Linked DNA regions of Homo sapiens: all the other regions are linked to region 1. Evidence: fine-mapped expression QTL. A gene starts in region 1. Each other region holds a variant in brackets. All regions are shown on one strand. Distances are between the middles of the regions. Region 1 holds the start of JDP2 (Jun dimerization protein 2). Region 2 overlaps JDP2 (Jun dimerization protein 2). Region 3 has its middle 29 kb from the start of JDP2-AS1.

What was found.
Region 2: its variant is fine-mapped to the expression of JDP2 in whole blood (TOPMed, PIP above 0.99).
Region 3: its variant is fine-mapped to the expression of JDP2 in blood mononuclear cells (TOPMed, PIP above 0.99). The same link has a PIP of 0.9 or more in whole blood.

The regions. Positions count from the first base shown.
Region 1 is chr14:75,425,728-75,430,949 of GRCh38, reverse strand. JDP2 (Jun dimerization protein 2) reads right to left here and starts at 2,928. Exons shown (of 4, transcript NM_001135048.2): 1 at 2,698-2,928. JDP2-AS1 (JDP2 antisense RNA 1) reads left to right here and starts at 3,295. Exons shown (of 2, transcript NR_184172.1): 1 at 3,295-3,480; 2 at 4,239-5,222. RefSeq lists silencers at 2,280-2,449, 2,510-2,689, 2,940-3,209 and enhancers at 2,875-3,432, 3,400-3,459, 3,480-3,809, 4,060-4,159.
Region 2 is chr14:75,469,117-75,474,338 of GRCh38, reverse strand. JDP2 (Jun dimerization protein 2) reads right to left here. Exons shown (of 4, transcript NM_001135048.2): 4 at 232-5,049. The coding sequence ends at 4,864. Among named protein-coding and RNA genes, the nearest start is that of JDP2, 44 kb to the right of the region's middle. RefSeq lists an enhancer at 1-25. The variant C/T (reference allele first, on the strand shown) is at 3,078.
Region 3 is chr14:75,396,179-75,401,400 of GRCh38, reverse strand. No RefSeq gene overlaps it. Among named protein-coding and RNA genes, the nearest start is that of JDP2-AS1, 29 kb to the left of the region's middle. The variant A/G (reference allele first, on the strand shown) is at 1,985.

The DNA.
Region 1 (5,222 bases):
CAACTAAGAATGGTGGGCTCTGGCCAGGCCTCCCACAGCCAGCAATAAGTAAAGAAACACAGTCTGAAAATTCCAAGACTGGGTCGCTAAGGCATTTGTCTCTGCTGAGTTCCGAGAGGCCAAACCACACACACACACAAGAACGCATGTGCACACACATGCACACGCACACACACATACACAGGCACATGGAGCTTGGCAGCCCCTAAGTTCCAGAGCTGGTAATACAAGCCACGGAACCGACTGCCAAGACAAGCAACAGAATGAGCCAGGCCCGGTTTCATTGGCCACCATACGCTGCATATGGCCCGGGACGCAGCCAAAACAGTGTTCTCACCCTCCTCAAAGGCATAGGAGACCCTCTGTTTTCAAACACACCTCCACAGAGCCTTAATTAAAGGAAAATGGAAAAATAATGTGCCTGCTGCCCTCCCCTGCCTATATAGGTATGCACACACACATACCCATATACACTCACTCCATTTTTCTCTTCCTCCCATTTCGGTTTCAAACATAATTCATTCGCATGGAAAAAAAGCAAACTGCATCCTGCAGCAGAAAGGCAGAAAAGAATGTAGCTTGCCCTCAACCCTGGCTCTGATTGCTCAAGTTGAGCTGGAGCTGAATGAATACAGAGCAGGCCGGCCTAGAGTCGGCGTTGGCCCCTTTCTTTCCAGAGTGGAGCTGGAAACAGACACTCGAGAGAGACAGCCCATTGCAACACCAGTAGCCCCACGACAAACAAGGCCCAGAGAGCCTATTCCTGCCAGGGATTCTGCAGGTTGGAAAAAAATGCCCACACATCCTACAAACAGGTAGGGAGATGACAACAAACCCAGGGAGTCAGGAGGAGCATTCCCTGGTAGCTGCAAAAGTTAGGCAGTGGATGAGTGGGGAGACCCTTATCCAAACCCTTCCTAGGGGGCATTGTCACCACTTTGCAACACATCTCCTTGGAGGTGGCTGCAGCCAACCTAGGAGAAAAGCCAGAGGTCTACACACCCATGACTTCCTGCAGCCCACCTAGGAGAAAAGCCAGAGGTCTACACACCCATGACTTCCTGCAGCCCTTCAAATCACACAGCACCCAGCTCTTCAGGAAGATTCTGGAGCTGCCTGCAGCTCTGAACCAAAGCCAAAGTAGAAGGGAACAGAAGAGTCTTTGAGAAATCCATCCTCCCTGCTCTAAACAAGGCAAAACCTTAACCACCCAGAGGTGTGAGAATAGATTTTGCTTCTCTTCCTCGATCCTCAGGTTTATACAAAATCAGAGCCATGCTCACACCTGATACCTGGTTAAACTCTCCCCTAGAAACCTGCAAAGGAAGATAAGCTATCCATCCAAGCTGCAGCCAGATTTGCTGGAAAGGTAAAAGCAATGGGAAGTGTTTTTTAAAACCCTCAGGGAAGGAAGGTTGGGGGGAAGGGAGATGATACGCGAATGCAGTTTCTACCAAGGGCTTAAAGGACGTTTGGGTACAAATGTACCCAAACATGGTTCAAAGCTTCCCAATTCCTGATGCTCCTCCAATTAAGACCCTAGGGAGAGACCACCAAGATTTAAGCCTGGGTACACACGCCTAAGCAGGCTGCAAGCCCTTTCTGAGATATAGACCTGAGCACATTTGCCCTGAGCACACGTGGTCGGGCCATAGCCCCATGCCCTGGATTCCAACAGGGAGGGCAGCACCCTGGGCAAGGGCCACGCCATCTTGCAACTGGAGATGACCCAAGGGGGTCGGCTGATTTCTCCTTCCACCAGCCTCTCCATCCCTGCAAAAGAGCCAGGACCTCCCCATCTTCCCCAGCCTCCTCATCTTCCCTGCTCCTCCTACTGACCCAGGCAAAGCCTGGCTCTGCCATCCCAGGGTCCAGGGATCCAGGTGGAAGGCCCAATCCACCCCTACACTCTCCCACCCCCCACTGCACCCCTACCCCTCGACAACCTCCTTTGAAGGGAGGAGCAGAGGAGAGCCTTCTAAGCTGGGCTGGGCAAGGGAGAGGCTGGTTACCTACAGGAGCCTGCTTGCCTCCTTATATAACCTGGCGTGGGAGACAGGAGAGCCCAAAGGGGACCCCGGCCACCCCTAGATCCCCTCCCAGCCCAGAGCTCCGAAGCAATGGCCATGAGAGAAGCTGCCTTCATTGGATGGAAATCCCGAGCCCTTCTCAATACTCTCCTCCGGGTCCGGGTCCTCCGGGAGTCGCGCTTCCTCACTGCCAGGAGGTCCTTGTCATCCCTCCACAATCTAACCCCGACCCCAACCCCGCACCTCCCTGGCCCTTCACCCTCCACCTCCACCCGCACAGCCCATCTCCGCGGGCACTTTTCTCCCCACTCACCCCGCCTTCCCCGCCGCCCGAGGAGAGCACCTCCCTGCAAACGGACGGGGGAGGAGAGCGCGGGAGGGAGAAGGAGGGAGCACCCCGGCTGTCCAGGGAGCGGACGGAGCCTCCCGTCCCGGGGCGGGAACCAAAAGGAAGCCTCAGGCTGCCGGGCGCCTCGCGGGAGGGGCCCGGCTGCAGCGCCCGGCGCGGGGAAAGCTCGAGGTCCCTGGGCTGCGGGAGCCTCCCCGCGGGGCTGGGCTGGGGCTCCTCGCGCTCCGCCCGTGCGGGGGCGGCCGTCCCAGGTGCCCGCGCCGCGCCCTGCCCCGCCCCGCCCGTCCCGGCGCCCCCAGCGCGCGCCCTCGCACCCACCGTGCAGAAGGTGCGGGGGGAGGCGGCGCCCCCGGGGCCGGGGCCCGGCTGCAGGCGCCGTGCCCGCTCCGCGCCGCTGCCGCCCGGCCGCGGAGCTCCGCCCGGTGCCCAGGCCTGTCCCGGCCCGGGAGCCGCCGCGGCGCCAGCCCCGCCGCCGCTGCAGCGTCCGCCGCCGCCAGCGCCCCCCGTCGCGGCCGCCGAGCGTCCCTCCCGCAGGCTGTGGCGGGCGGCGGGACGGGTTGCATCAGCCCCGGCTATATAGCGGCCCCTGGGCGGCGGGGAGGGGTCGGGAATGCGGAACCGGCCGAGCTGCCAGCTCCAGACGTCAGAGGGGGACGGAGAGGAAGGGAAGGAGGGGACCGGGGAGGAGGGGGTGTGGAGCCGGCGCTTCACACCCACTGACCTTAACCTCCCCCGCCGCCTTGGGCGCCCTCCTCCCGCGGCCGCTCGCGCTCCTCTCCCCGCGGGGGCGTCCCGGGTTCCATGCAGTCCCCCGGCTCCGCCACCCCACGGTGCAGGAGCGCTCGAGAAAGCAGGACGCGGCGAGCGGTTATGTAAGCGCACCCCCCGCGCACCGCCGCCCGGCTTGTGCCCGCCAGGCAGCAGCAGCCGCAGCCCTAGGAGAGAGACGCGAGAGGCCGGAGCCGGGGGAAAAGTCAAAAGCCCCTTCACGCACAGCCTGTGTTAACCATGTACCTCAGTCCCGGCGCTTCCCCCACAAACTGAGAGCGACAGGGAGAATTTCCGCACAGTTTCATCCTTGGACACTTCAGGACTGAGCGGGTGAGGAGGCGATCTCGCCAGCCTGCTTTATTTTTCGGTGGAGAAGGATGGGCTGAGATGAAGGCATTTGGGGACTCCTACCCCTACCCACCGGCCCCCGCCAGCGCCCTTAGGCCCCGAGACGGCTGGCTGCACCAGCCTGACCTCTGCTAGGGCTGCAGCCTGAGACCGCGGCTTGCTCTACTGCTGGCGCAGTTTGACCCTTGGGCTTGTACCCTGCTCCAGCGGGCTTCTCCTTTCCACTCCGGACACAGCAGTGAGCAGACCCAGCCCTCAGCAGACCCCAAGTGGCCTTCTTCCCCGTTCCAGCTTCAATAGCCAACCCCACTCCCACCTTCCATCCTTCTAGAGAGGAAATGGTGAAGGGGACTCCAGAGGGAAGGCGACATCCATGGTGCCCTCCAGTATACAAAGGCAGAGACACAGAGCCCTCAGGTAGAACGGGGTTCCCTAGATGGCATCTCCTACCTCCAGAGCTCCTGGGTACCCATCGAGCCCCCTACCTTCTGCCTAAGCCAGATAGGAGTGACGATTTTTATACTCAGCGACTTTCGGCCTCCTTCTGAGAGTGATGTCAGGTCATCACCCATAGAAGAAAGGAAGTGAAAGAAAAAGTTCATGCCTTCTTGGAGTGCAGATGCTCAGAGTGAAAGAAACAACAAGACTTGAGACAGATGGGTGCCATTGAGCAAACCCGAACATGCATGTCTCTCTCATGTGAGTGAGTGCATGAGACTTTATTCTCCTTATTTCCCCAGTGCAGTGAAATCTTTCTGGATAAAAGAAGTGGGCTAATGGAAGGAGAGACAGACCAAGTCCCAATGACATTGCCTGACCATTTTCACCTTCGCCATCAGCAGTCTCCCTCACAGCATTGGTGTGGGCAGGTAAGAAGAAAGCAAGGCCCTGAAAGAATATACATTGGAAAATGAGCAGTAATTTGATACTCTTGTGGAAGAGCATGACTCTTCGCCCCAGAAAGGCCAATGACACCTTTACTACAGCGTAAAGATCAAAGCCAGGGACTGTGAAACTGCCTCATGATGTTTCTCCCATGAGACCTGTGTCTGGATGTTTATATGGAACAAAACATGGAACAGAGGCAATAGTACTTGATGTGTCTTCAGCTGGGGCTTTGGATAAACTAAACTGATCTATATTCAGGGACTAATAATTAGGGTGTGTGGTTAGAGCGCGTCCTCTCTAGGGCCTGTTTTGGACTGTGGCTGGGCCACCAGCAGTCCTACTGGGCCTTTGCTTCCCCCACAAATTAAATATGTTACAGGGGTGGCACCAAGGGGTGACTTGGGAGGCCTTTAGTCCCCTCTACCTCTCTATAATCTCCATTAGATCTTCTCTGTTATTTGCTATTGATGCTTTTCAGTTTCATATAGGACGCTATAAGAACACAGCTTCAAGGCCTCCCTTCCGCCACATACTCCCTACTAGGCCCCTCTACGTAGTCACTGCCTCTGGGAGTGGCTAGAGGGAGAAGCCATAAACTGGGTCCTTTATGCAGACATTGGATGCTGGATGGAGCTGATTTACCACTGGCTCTTAGGGACAGACAAGTGACTCAGCCTAAGGCAGTTTGAATTTAAGTTTCCTATCACAACTAGAAAAGTCCTGATTAACACGCCCAGCCCTAGTCAATGGGCTGATTGAGAGATCGTCACATATCCCAAGAAAATCTCACAAGACTGGGAATTTTGTGGATCTGCTGGAAAGAGAAGCTGCCAGAA
Region 2 (5,222 bases), 43 kb before region 1:
TGTAGAGCAGAACAACATTCCTCAAGGTGTCCTCACCCCGGGGCACCCTCCCGCAGGGCTCAACCAGCTAACCTCTTTCCACCCTTTGAATTGTCTCTCTCTCTCCCTTCAGGCATATAATTAAATTTGCATAAATTCAAAGAGCATATGCTGCAATCCCATTGTAATTTCAGATTTGTTTTTATTTCCTGAGTTTGCTAAGGCAATAATAAAAACAAAACCTCCTATTTGTATTGTGGCTTGTTCTCTTTTATTGCAAAGAATATCAAATATACAGAGGAGTGTGGAGAAGATAGCCCACATCTGTGCACACATCACCCACCTCTGAAAAATCCTGTCATTCTACATTTGATGGGGATTTTAAAAAAATAAATGAAATGTTATGTGTATAGTTGAAGTTGAAGTCCAGCGTCCTACTTACCCTTGCAGTGGCATCCCTAGTTCCCTCCTCTCCGCGGCCCTCCCAGGAGCACTCCCTATGACTGATTGTGATATTGACAGCATTCTTGTGCAGGCTTTTATACCTCTATTACCCAGATGTGTGTGTAGCCATAAACAATAAAGTATCAACGTATACATTTAGTTAGAAATATGACATAAGTGGTATCCTTCCGCAGTTCACTCCCCTACCCTCCATCTCAACAGTAGGTTTCTGAGATTTATCCATATTGATACATATAGCTCTGGTTCATTCTTTTTTACCTGTTGAGTAATATTCAATTTTAGGAAAATACCACAATTTATTTGTTCTTATGCTGATCATCATTTAGGTTGTTTTCAACTTTTTAAAAATACAAACAAAGCCATCAGTGAACATTCTTGTACATTTCCTTTTGCCCCTGTGCTAGAGTTCCTCCCAAGACTAGGAGGAAAACTGCTAGGTCAAAGGATGCGTTTAGCTTTAGTTTTACTGGTTATTTCCAAATTGCTTTGCACAGTTTCTCACTGGCAGCATATCTAAGTTTCCTTTAATCCACATTTTTTTTGTTTTGTTTTTTTTGAGATGGAGTCTCGCTCTGTCACCCAGGCTGGAGTGCAGTGGCGCAATCTTGGCTCACTGCAACCTCCACCTCCCAGGTCCAAGTGATTCTCCTGCCTCAGCCTCCCGAGTAGCTGGGACTACAGGCACGTGCCACCATGCCCGGCTAATTTTTTGTATTATTAGTAGAGACAGGGTTTCACCGTGTTATCCAGGGTGGTCTCAATCTTCTGACCTCATGATCCACCCATCTTGGCCTCCCAACCTTTAATCCATATTCTTACCAACACATACTTGTTTCTGCCCATCTGATAGCTAAAGCGTCTTGTCTTTCTCAGGCCATGGTTGCATTCATCAACTCGATTGATTCTCATAGGAACCCTGGGCAGAGGTGGCACAGGTCTTATGTGTGACCACCTGGCAGGAGGGCACACTGAGGCCCAGGGAGGGAATGATGCATCCAGCATGGCTGGTTGTGACCAGTCAGGAGCTGAACAGATCCAGGAGTCTGCGATCCCAGGCATTCATCACACCATAGGGACCACGTACAGGGTCAGAACACAAACTTGGCAGCCCATCTTTACAGAATAAAACATATTTAAATAACCTGTACTATGTAGATATCAATAACTACCGACACTAACAGAGGACAAAATAATTACCATTTTAGGGAGCTTTTATTTCACAAAACACTTTGTATATCCATTCCTTTTTTGATCTTGATAACTCCATAAAAAGACTTGGATTATTACTGTTCCCACTTCACAGATAAGAAAAATGAGGTTCACAGCTAGTCAATAGAAGATTACATCATGAACCCGTTTGCCTTTAAGGTGTGTCTTCTGTGAACACCCTTGGAGATGGTTTGCCTGAGACTTGGGAATTCTTAACATGTACTGTGAGCACAGGTGGGTCTGTGCCATCTCTCCCGGCTTCCTGCACAAGTTCCCTGGCAACTGAGGTCACACCACAAACACATTTTTCCTCTCATGGGGAGGCTCAGCCTCAGGTTTTATGCACCTGAAGTCAGACTGACAATAACATCTTGGCTCTGCCACCTAACACCTGTGACCTTGGGCAGGTTACCTCTTCTGTGTGCCTCGGTTTTCTCATCTGTAATGTTGGAACGCTAGCACCTACCCCCCAGTCAGGGTGCACAAAGCAGTTGAGGTCACACATGCACAGTGGCAGGTGCCCAGAAGAAACTCAAATGCTGGCTCTTGCAATGAAGCCTATAATTGTGACTTCTAGCCACAGGAGCAGCCAGTGGTCCTGGTGAGGAAGGCTCCGCACAGCACAAGTCACTGGTGTGGTGACTTTGGAAGACAGCCCACCTGCACAGGCTAAGGAGGCTCTATTTTGGAGATGCCAGCTCCCGGTGGCCAAGCACAGGACCAGGGAAGCCACAGCCAGTGGCACACGGCAGTCCTGTAAGAACATCCACTAGGTCACTGGAGGGACCCTGGTAAGTCCACTTCATTTTTCTCATGGCTTGAAAAATATCAAAGGATTACAGCGCGAGGGGTTCCTGATGCAGAACTGACACTGCCTCACCTGCATCGTCCGGACCGACAGCCTCAAGACCCCCGAGACAGAAGGCAACCCGCTGCCACAACCTTCTGCCACAGCTGACAGTGAGAGGACCAGGTCCTGTTTCTAGGGCGGGGTGCAGGGGAGTCCACACCAAGTGTGTTGGGTGGAGGGAAACTGAGAGGAGTGAGCGAGGGAGGGATCACAGGTGTGTTAATCACCATTCTCCACTTCTGCCCATCCCAGAAGGCCTCGTCCACAATTTGGGAAGCAACCCAGGTTCACTGCTGTTCTTGACACGAAGTCATCACCAGCAACTAGTTATCCTAAGTCCAGGGATGGAGGAGAAAGAACACATGATTAGAATGCAGGAGTCAAGTTTAGTTGGGTAAACTGTAGCCTTTGCAAGCTTCAGTATACAAGGAAGCTAAAAACACCTCTCCCGCCTTCCTCATGCGTGACATGCCTTGAGAACTGCCGAGTGCCAGGTACACAGCAGGCACTGAGTGAATGCCACTGAGCTGCTCCGGCCCTGGGTGGCAGGGATTCAGCTGTCGAGGTGAGGGGG[C/T]AGAGAAGCCATCCACACCCTTCCCTGGGTCAGACACACATTGACCAGGGTAGTTGGTTCACTCTGTGATCATGGGACAACCTGGAACTCTATCCAGCCTTCCCAGAAACTAAATCTATAACTGTGGCCTCATAAGCTTCCTATTCAACCATGAGGACAATCATAGTGGGTTGGTGACAGGAGGAGAGTCACAGGCCTCTGGAGGGAGAGTTCAAACACCAGCTCTATCCCTTGCTAGCTGGGTTACCTTGGATAAGTCGCTTACCTTCTCTGAGCCTCAGTTAAACCATCTGTAAAATGAGAAGAATCGTGCCTAGTTTGTGCTCTTGTGAGAAGGGAAGAGACTATGTCTGCTTGTCACAAAATAAGTCTTCAACAAATGGTGTCTGCGAGTTTAATTCCCTGGACCTCTAATTCGCCATCTGTGAATTGGGGACAAGTGCTGTTCCCTGGCAAGGCTGCCATGAAGACGAAATGAGACAACTTATGGAGCAAGCACAGGATTCACTCCTTACTGGAGGCCCCACAAGGGCAAGACTTAGGTCTGTTTCATCCTCCAGTGAATTCTCAGGGCCTGGCACACACAACAGGCCCTCAGAAAACATCTGCAGAGTGAGCGAACACTCTGACTGCTCTCAAAATAGTAACTGCAGGTGGCTTAATGTCTCTGAGCCTTAGCTTCCTCATCTGTGAAATAGGAGAGCTGTTGTGAAAATGAACAGGCCTATAGCAGAGGCTCCAAACAGTCTCCGACCCTGAGAGGGCCTTGCACCCATTCCCCAGGCAGACACCACGCAAGGCGGCTATGTAAGTAAGAGCAATGTTTACTGAGCGATACAGGACTGAGTACTATGAAGGGTTTACAAGGATGGAAATGCACCCCGCCCCCGCCCTGGCCACCCCCGACACCCAGAGACTACAGTACTTAGGAGTTACACACAACGGCCGTAACTGGTGGCTATCTGTTCATAACAAACAAACCATAGCATATTTATACTGTATCACATCGAGTGATTATAGAAATCCATATATATATTGCTTGTATAAAATCTTTTTTTTTGTAAAAAATATTAAAAAAAAAAAAAAAAAGGAAAGTATAAAAAACATGTGCAGTTGAAAGCCCTGCCAGGACAGCCAGTCTGTAAACATTCGGTGAGTATGTGCTTTGGAAGGGCGCCCGCGCCTCAGTGCCCACAGCAAACTCCAGCAGGGCTGGCGAGGGTGCGCCCGGCTGCCGCCTCCTGGGCAGGGCCGCGCTGGACCGAGGTGGGTGGGGGCATCAGGGCCCCGCAGCACGCCCCTCTCCAGCTTCGCATCAGGGCGAGGGGCAGGGCTGGGGGCAGGTGGGTTGCAGTTTCATTCTGAGTTCCATCCTCAGCCGCGTTTTGGTTGCAACTCATGGCTTTTCCTGGCTGTTCGGAGGTTCCTTGGATGGGTGCCCTGGTGAAGAGGCCAGAGAAGAGCCCAGGGCTGCCTCGTTGGGCGTCTCCCTGGCCTCGGTGCCTCTGTCCTGCCTCCTTCAAGTGGGGCCCCAGGCAGGACAACCCTACCCGAGGGTCAACTTTGGTCTCAGCGCTTGGTCCCTCTGGGTTTCCTCAGCCCGCTCTTCCTCCTGGGTGGCTGATCTGAGTTTCACAAAAAAGCTCGGCTGATGCTGGCTGTGCTGAACCTCATTGTACAGTTTTTCATGCACCAAAGGAAGGGCCATCTGGGGCCCCCCTCCTCCTCTCTCTTCGTCACTTTTCCTTCTCCTCTTCCTCCTCCTCCACCTCCTCCCAGCCCATGGTCACTTCTTCTCGAGCTGCTCGAGCAGTGGGTTGCCTTCTGACTCGGGGGTCTTGACACTGTCGGTCCGGACGATGCAGGTGGGGCGGTGTCGGTTCAGCATCAGGATGAGCTGCTGCCGCTCCTGCTTCAGCTCCTCAATCTGGGTCTTCAGCTCTGCGTTCATGAGTTCCAGCCGCTCGGATTCCTGTATACCAACACAGAAGCACGCTGTGAGTTTCACGGGGACTGGCTCTGGGGAGAGGCTCTGCCTGTGGTTAGGCACAGGGCACGCTGGGCTGGCACTGGCCTGTTTTCTGCAGGAAGAAGCACAGACCCTGCTACTGAGCCCCTGGCTAACTGACTTTCTGCAGGCAGTGC
Region 3 (5,222 bases), 30 kb after region 1:
CCAAAAGCCCAGAGGAGGCCGAGATAAAAAGAACAAGGAAGGGCCAGGCGCAGTGGCTCACGCCTGTAATCTCAGCACTTTGGTAGGCCGAGGTGGGTGGATCATGAGGTCAGGAGTTTGAGACCAGCCTGGCCAACATGGCAAAACCCCATCTCTACTAAAAATACAGAAATTATCTGGGCGTGGTGGCATGCGCCTGTAGTCCCAGCTACTCAGGAGGCTGAGGCAGGAGAATCACTTGAACCTGGGAGGCGGAAGTTGCAATGAGATGAGATCATGCTGCTGCACTCCAGCCTGGGTGACAGAGTGAGACTCCATCTCAAAAAAACAAAAACAAAAAAGAACAAGGAGGAAGGGCTTTGGAAAGTTGGTAAAAGGTTAATCTATTTGCCCTCCATGCCACTTAGCCCCTGACCATCCCAAAACACAGAAGTCAACATCCTTGGGATGAATTATGAGCAGAGGGAGAAATTCCAGGGCAGGGGAGCAGACATCAGGAAAACTGAGATCCTTCTTCTGAAAGGACATAAAAAGTTAATATTTTTGTAAATTGGAACCCAAGCATTTCAGGCCTGGTGGGATGATAAGGGGTTAAAGCTTCCACGGAGCAAACCTAAAGTAGCTTGGAAGGGTGTGGCCCCCAATTTGATTTATTTTAGAAGCATGGAAAGCCAATGAATGTGCTTCTGGCCACAAGACAGGACAGGTGAGAAAAAAGAAAGGAAAGAGGCCTGGTTTGTGTTTCCTGGAAAGGGAGTGTCGTTACAGCTCTCCTGGGGAGCACACACACGCCTCTCGTAAATGTATATGAGCCCTGATTAGTTGGCTCCTGCTCACCACCCTAGCATGTTCCCAGTGGCTGGCTCCCTGGCGTTCTGGCACTCAGGGCTGCCAACACCTGCCAACAACAAGGAAGCTGGGTATTGGGGCTGCAGCTTTTGGAAGCTGCTTATGAAACAGATGACTAAGCCCTGGGGGCAGGGGGAGGGTGCAGCTCATGCCTAGCTCAGCGAGAACTCAATCCAAGTCAGCCTTGACCCGGTGCCAACCATGTGCCAGGCTAGTCCCTGGGGATGTGAAGATGACGAGGCATGGTCCCTGCTCCAAAGGACCAGGCATGCCCATAAAGAATTGTAATCAGAGGCATGAATCTGCAGAAGAGGAGAATACAGGGTTTGGCAGTGGACATGATTTCCCAGGGGGACAGTGATAGAGGCAAAAGAAGGGGGAAGGGGAGTTTCTCCATTCATGTAGTCAGGCTAAGAGTTTTAGCCTCTTCCTAAAGCACACACCCTCTTCCTCATGCCCTCTTAATCCAGTTAGTCTGGCTTCTGTCACCCAAGTGGCTCTCAGACTCTTTCCTCTTCTCCTGTCTTGGCTCAGGTCCTCATTTCTGGCTTTGGCCCAGGCTCTTTGCACTCAGCACTGCAGACAACTTCCTACAATTCAGGTCCAGTGGGCTTGCCCCCCTCCTTGAAGCTGTCTATTGTTTCCCATTGCCCCAGAATAAAAGCTAAGCCCCAAGGTCCTTCACATTGCAGCCCCAAGCTGCCTAAAGCCGAGGGCTCAAGGAGGCTTCAGTGTAGGTTTGACTCAATAGCACCACAATGTCATCAAAACCCCTTCTTCTTCTTGGTGTTTTCCTCTCTGCCCTCCATGGTGTTGTCTTCATGCTCAGGCAGGCTTTTCTCATGGTGAGAAAACGGCTGCCACAATTCCTGTTTTCACACCTATGCTCCATGCTGTATAGAAGGAGAAAGGGAGAGAGCTTCTTTCCCTGAACCTGCCAGCAAAGTCTTCTCCAGTCTCTCAGGTCAGAATTGGGTCATTTGCCCATCTGCAGGCAAGAAGGGATTTTGCTGATTAGTCTATACTGGGGCTATTTACCCCAAGCCTAGGCCAGGGTGGAGTCGACTTCCTCCAAAAAATATGGGAAGTGTAGGGAGGGTGGATACCCCAAGGAAAATGGGGTAGTTACTGAGAG[A/G]GAATGGATGCTGAAGAGGCCACCCTTCCAGCATCTCCTCCCGACAAGCCCCACCCAGCTACTTCTTTTTCCCAAACACGTCATGTTCTTTGGTGTCTCCCAAGCCTTTGCACATGCCTTCCCTTCACCTGGGATGGCTTTTCATTCCTCTTGCTCAGTGAATGCCTACTCATTTCTCAAATGCTTGCCCATCACTTTCCCTATTCTTTAGATACTGCAGTCAACTTAAGGACAGGTTCTTATTCACTCCTAGCATAATGCAATACCTGGCAAAAAGTAGGTGCTCAATAAATGTTTATCAAGTTAATGAACACTGCTGATGAGACAATAGCAAATCCCAAGTTCACAACAAAGAGCTAGTATGTCTTCAAAATCTCTTCCCAACATCTAAAATGTAACAAATATAAGTAGAATTGTAGTGTATAAAGCTAGGATGGGTTCAGGTAAAGAAATGTTGAGGGGCCAGAGTTTGTCCAAGCATCTCTAGCATCATCCCAGAAAAAGGGCTCCCTCCCAGGCTGGCAGGAATGTTTTAGTTCTCCTGGCAGGTTTGTAGGTCCTGAAATGGAAAGGGACCTATCAGGCTCTCATAGTCCGATCCATTAATCTTCTAACCATTTAGACTAGCCTACTGGGAAGAGATTGAAATGGTCAGCCAACTCAGGCACTCTCATCTGGCTGACAATTATAGTCTTACTGTTCTTGAATAACTTGGCCTTCTGGTTTACCAGAGAATCTGCATTTCATTAGCATGGTTTGGTCTCTGAGACCAACACTATCAGTTGCTTCCTCGCTATTTTCTTCCTTAGTCACAGAATCCCTGAATTTTAGCCAGCGACTTGGTCACCTAGAACACAGAGTACATTTCTCAGCCTCCCTTGCAGCTAGATAGGGCCATATGACTAAATCCCGACAAATGGATGTAAATAAAAGTAATATGTGTGTAACTTTTTGGAAGTGCCATGAAAAGGTGGTAGTGTGTCCTTCTTCCCTTTTCCTTTTCTGCAGGCTGGAAGGTGGTCGCACTGGCTGGAGCTGGAGCAGTCATCTTGGACTGTTGTGGAATTTGGAAATATAGCCCATGCATGGTGGACCAACAGATAGAAGGAACTTGGGTTAAATATTGCACAAAGAGCCATATCAGTAGCCCTCAAGACCTACCTAAGCATTTACATAAGAGAAATGCATTTCTCTCTCTCTCTCTCTCTTTTTTTTTTTTTTTTTTTTTTAGAGATGACGTCTCGCTTGTCTCTTAAAGTTGGGCAACATAACAAGATACCATTTCTAAAAAAAAAAATTAGCTGGCACAGTGATGTGTACCCATAGTCCAAGGTACTTGGGAGACTGAGGTGGGAGGATCACCTGAAGCCAGGAGGTTGAGGCTGCAATGAGCTATGATCACGCCACTGTACTCCAGCCTGGGCAACAGAGCAAGACTCTGTCTCTCTTAAAAAAATTATATTAATTACATGTTGAAATAATAATGGTTTAGCTATATTGGGTTAACATATGCTTTTTACTTTTTAAAATGTTACTACTAGAAAATTTTAAGTTACATTTATGGCTCACACTATATTTCTGTTGGACAGTGCTTCCCTGGGCCTTGTCCCCTCTGTCTGAACTGATAATATCAGATTACTGAGCCATGTAAAGCTGAGAGATGATTAGAAACTGAGCTCACACTCACCCACCAAGGTCTAGACTCTAACTCTGCCTCTGGCTCTGTCTGTCTGTCTGTCTGTCTTTTGCTCACTGGAATCTCTCACCTTATTTGTTAAATTACCTTATCTGCAACCAGAATAGGTATAAAGCTCAGCACAGAGCATGGGTCAGCCCAGAAGGAATGAGAACAGGAATCAGGAGGTGCTCAGGAAGTCTGAAAGGAATGTCTCTGGGATCCAGGCTTCAGTACCTAGCTAAGGCAGCAGACCACCCACAGGTACATGATCACTTTTATCAGCAGCAGAGAACCACATTTCAGCCATACCAAGCCTTCTTGAAAGGCTTCAGAGAGGGGTTTTGTATTTGGACCTCCAGGAGAAATACAATACATACACTTTCAAATTGTCCATTGATCTGAAGGAGAAAAAGGAGAATGTCCACCTGCTTGGGGTGCAGTTCTCCGTGAAGATTTTCCGATAGGGCTGTGTTAACCCATGCCTTAGTCAGCAGAAGCCATCTTGAACTTGTTCAGGCAATACCAAAGAAAGCTTCCTGGAAGAATCCTGGGATATCCATGGAAGCCAGGGCCAGCAGGCTTTCTCCAGGAATAGAAGCCCAAGAACTGGAAAGGCACTGGGAACCAGGCAGTATCTCTGCATTTTGAATCTGCAGCTCTGTTTTTTTCTCCTCTCTGCAAACCAAGCTGCTTTTCTTCTCAGTCCCCCAACCTCACCCCACCTACACACTCACACATGCACTTTCTTTCTTTTTTTTTTTTTTTTAAGACAGAGTCTTGCTCTGTCGCCCAGGCTGGAATGTGGAGTGCAGTGGCGCCATCTTGGCTGACTGCAACCTCTGCCTCCTGGGTTCAAGCAATTCTCGTGCCTCAGCTTCCTAAGGAGCTGGGACTCAGGCACGCGCCACCAAGCCTGGCTAATTTTTTTGTATTTTTAGTAGAGACGGGGTTTCGCCATATTGGCCAGACTGATCTCTAACTCCTGGGCTCAAGTGATCCACCCACCTCGGCCTCCCAAAGTGCTGGGATTACAGGTGCGAGCCACTGTGCCTGGCCCAACACTTCCTCATTTGTATCTCTTCCACTCAGGGCACCATATCAAACCAACTGGCTATCTCTTGGTCATCAAAATTCTAATAATCTGATTGACCAAGCCTTGGGCAACTGTTCACCTTGGTTTATGGAAACCAGGTGGCAAGGTCACATACTTTACACAGGCTGTCGGAGACTCATCTCTTTGGGTGACTTCCCATGCTACCTATGAGCTGGGTGGGTAGCATCAGAAGTATCCATCAACAACCTGGGGGCAATCACTGATGTGCCTTATGCCAAAGGACATGGTCAGCATCACCGTCATCCCCATCATCTGTCCTAATCACAGCCAACACGTTACTTCATTCAGTCCTCTCAACAGCTCTATTTTACAGTTGTAAAATTGTGATTGTTCCTATTTTACAGATTTAGAAATTGAGGCATCACATGACCAAGGTCACACAGTTAGTTAAGGGCACAGCTAGGAATCAACCGCAGGAGATCTGCCTCCAGTCTGGGCTCGTAACC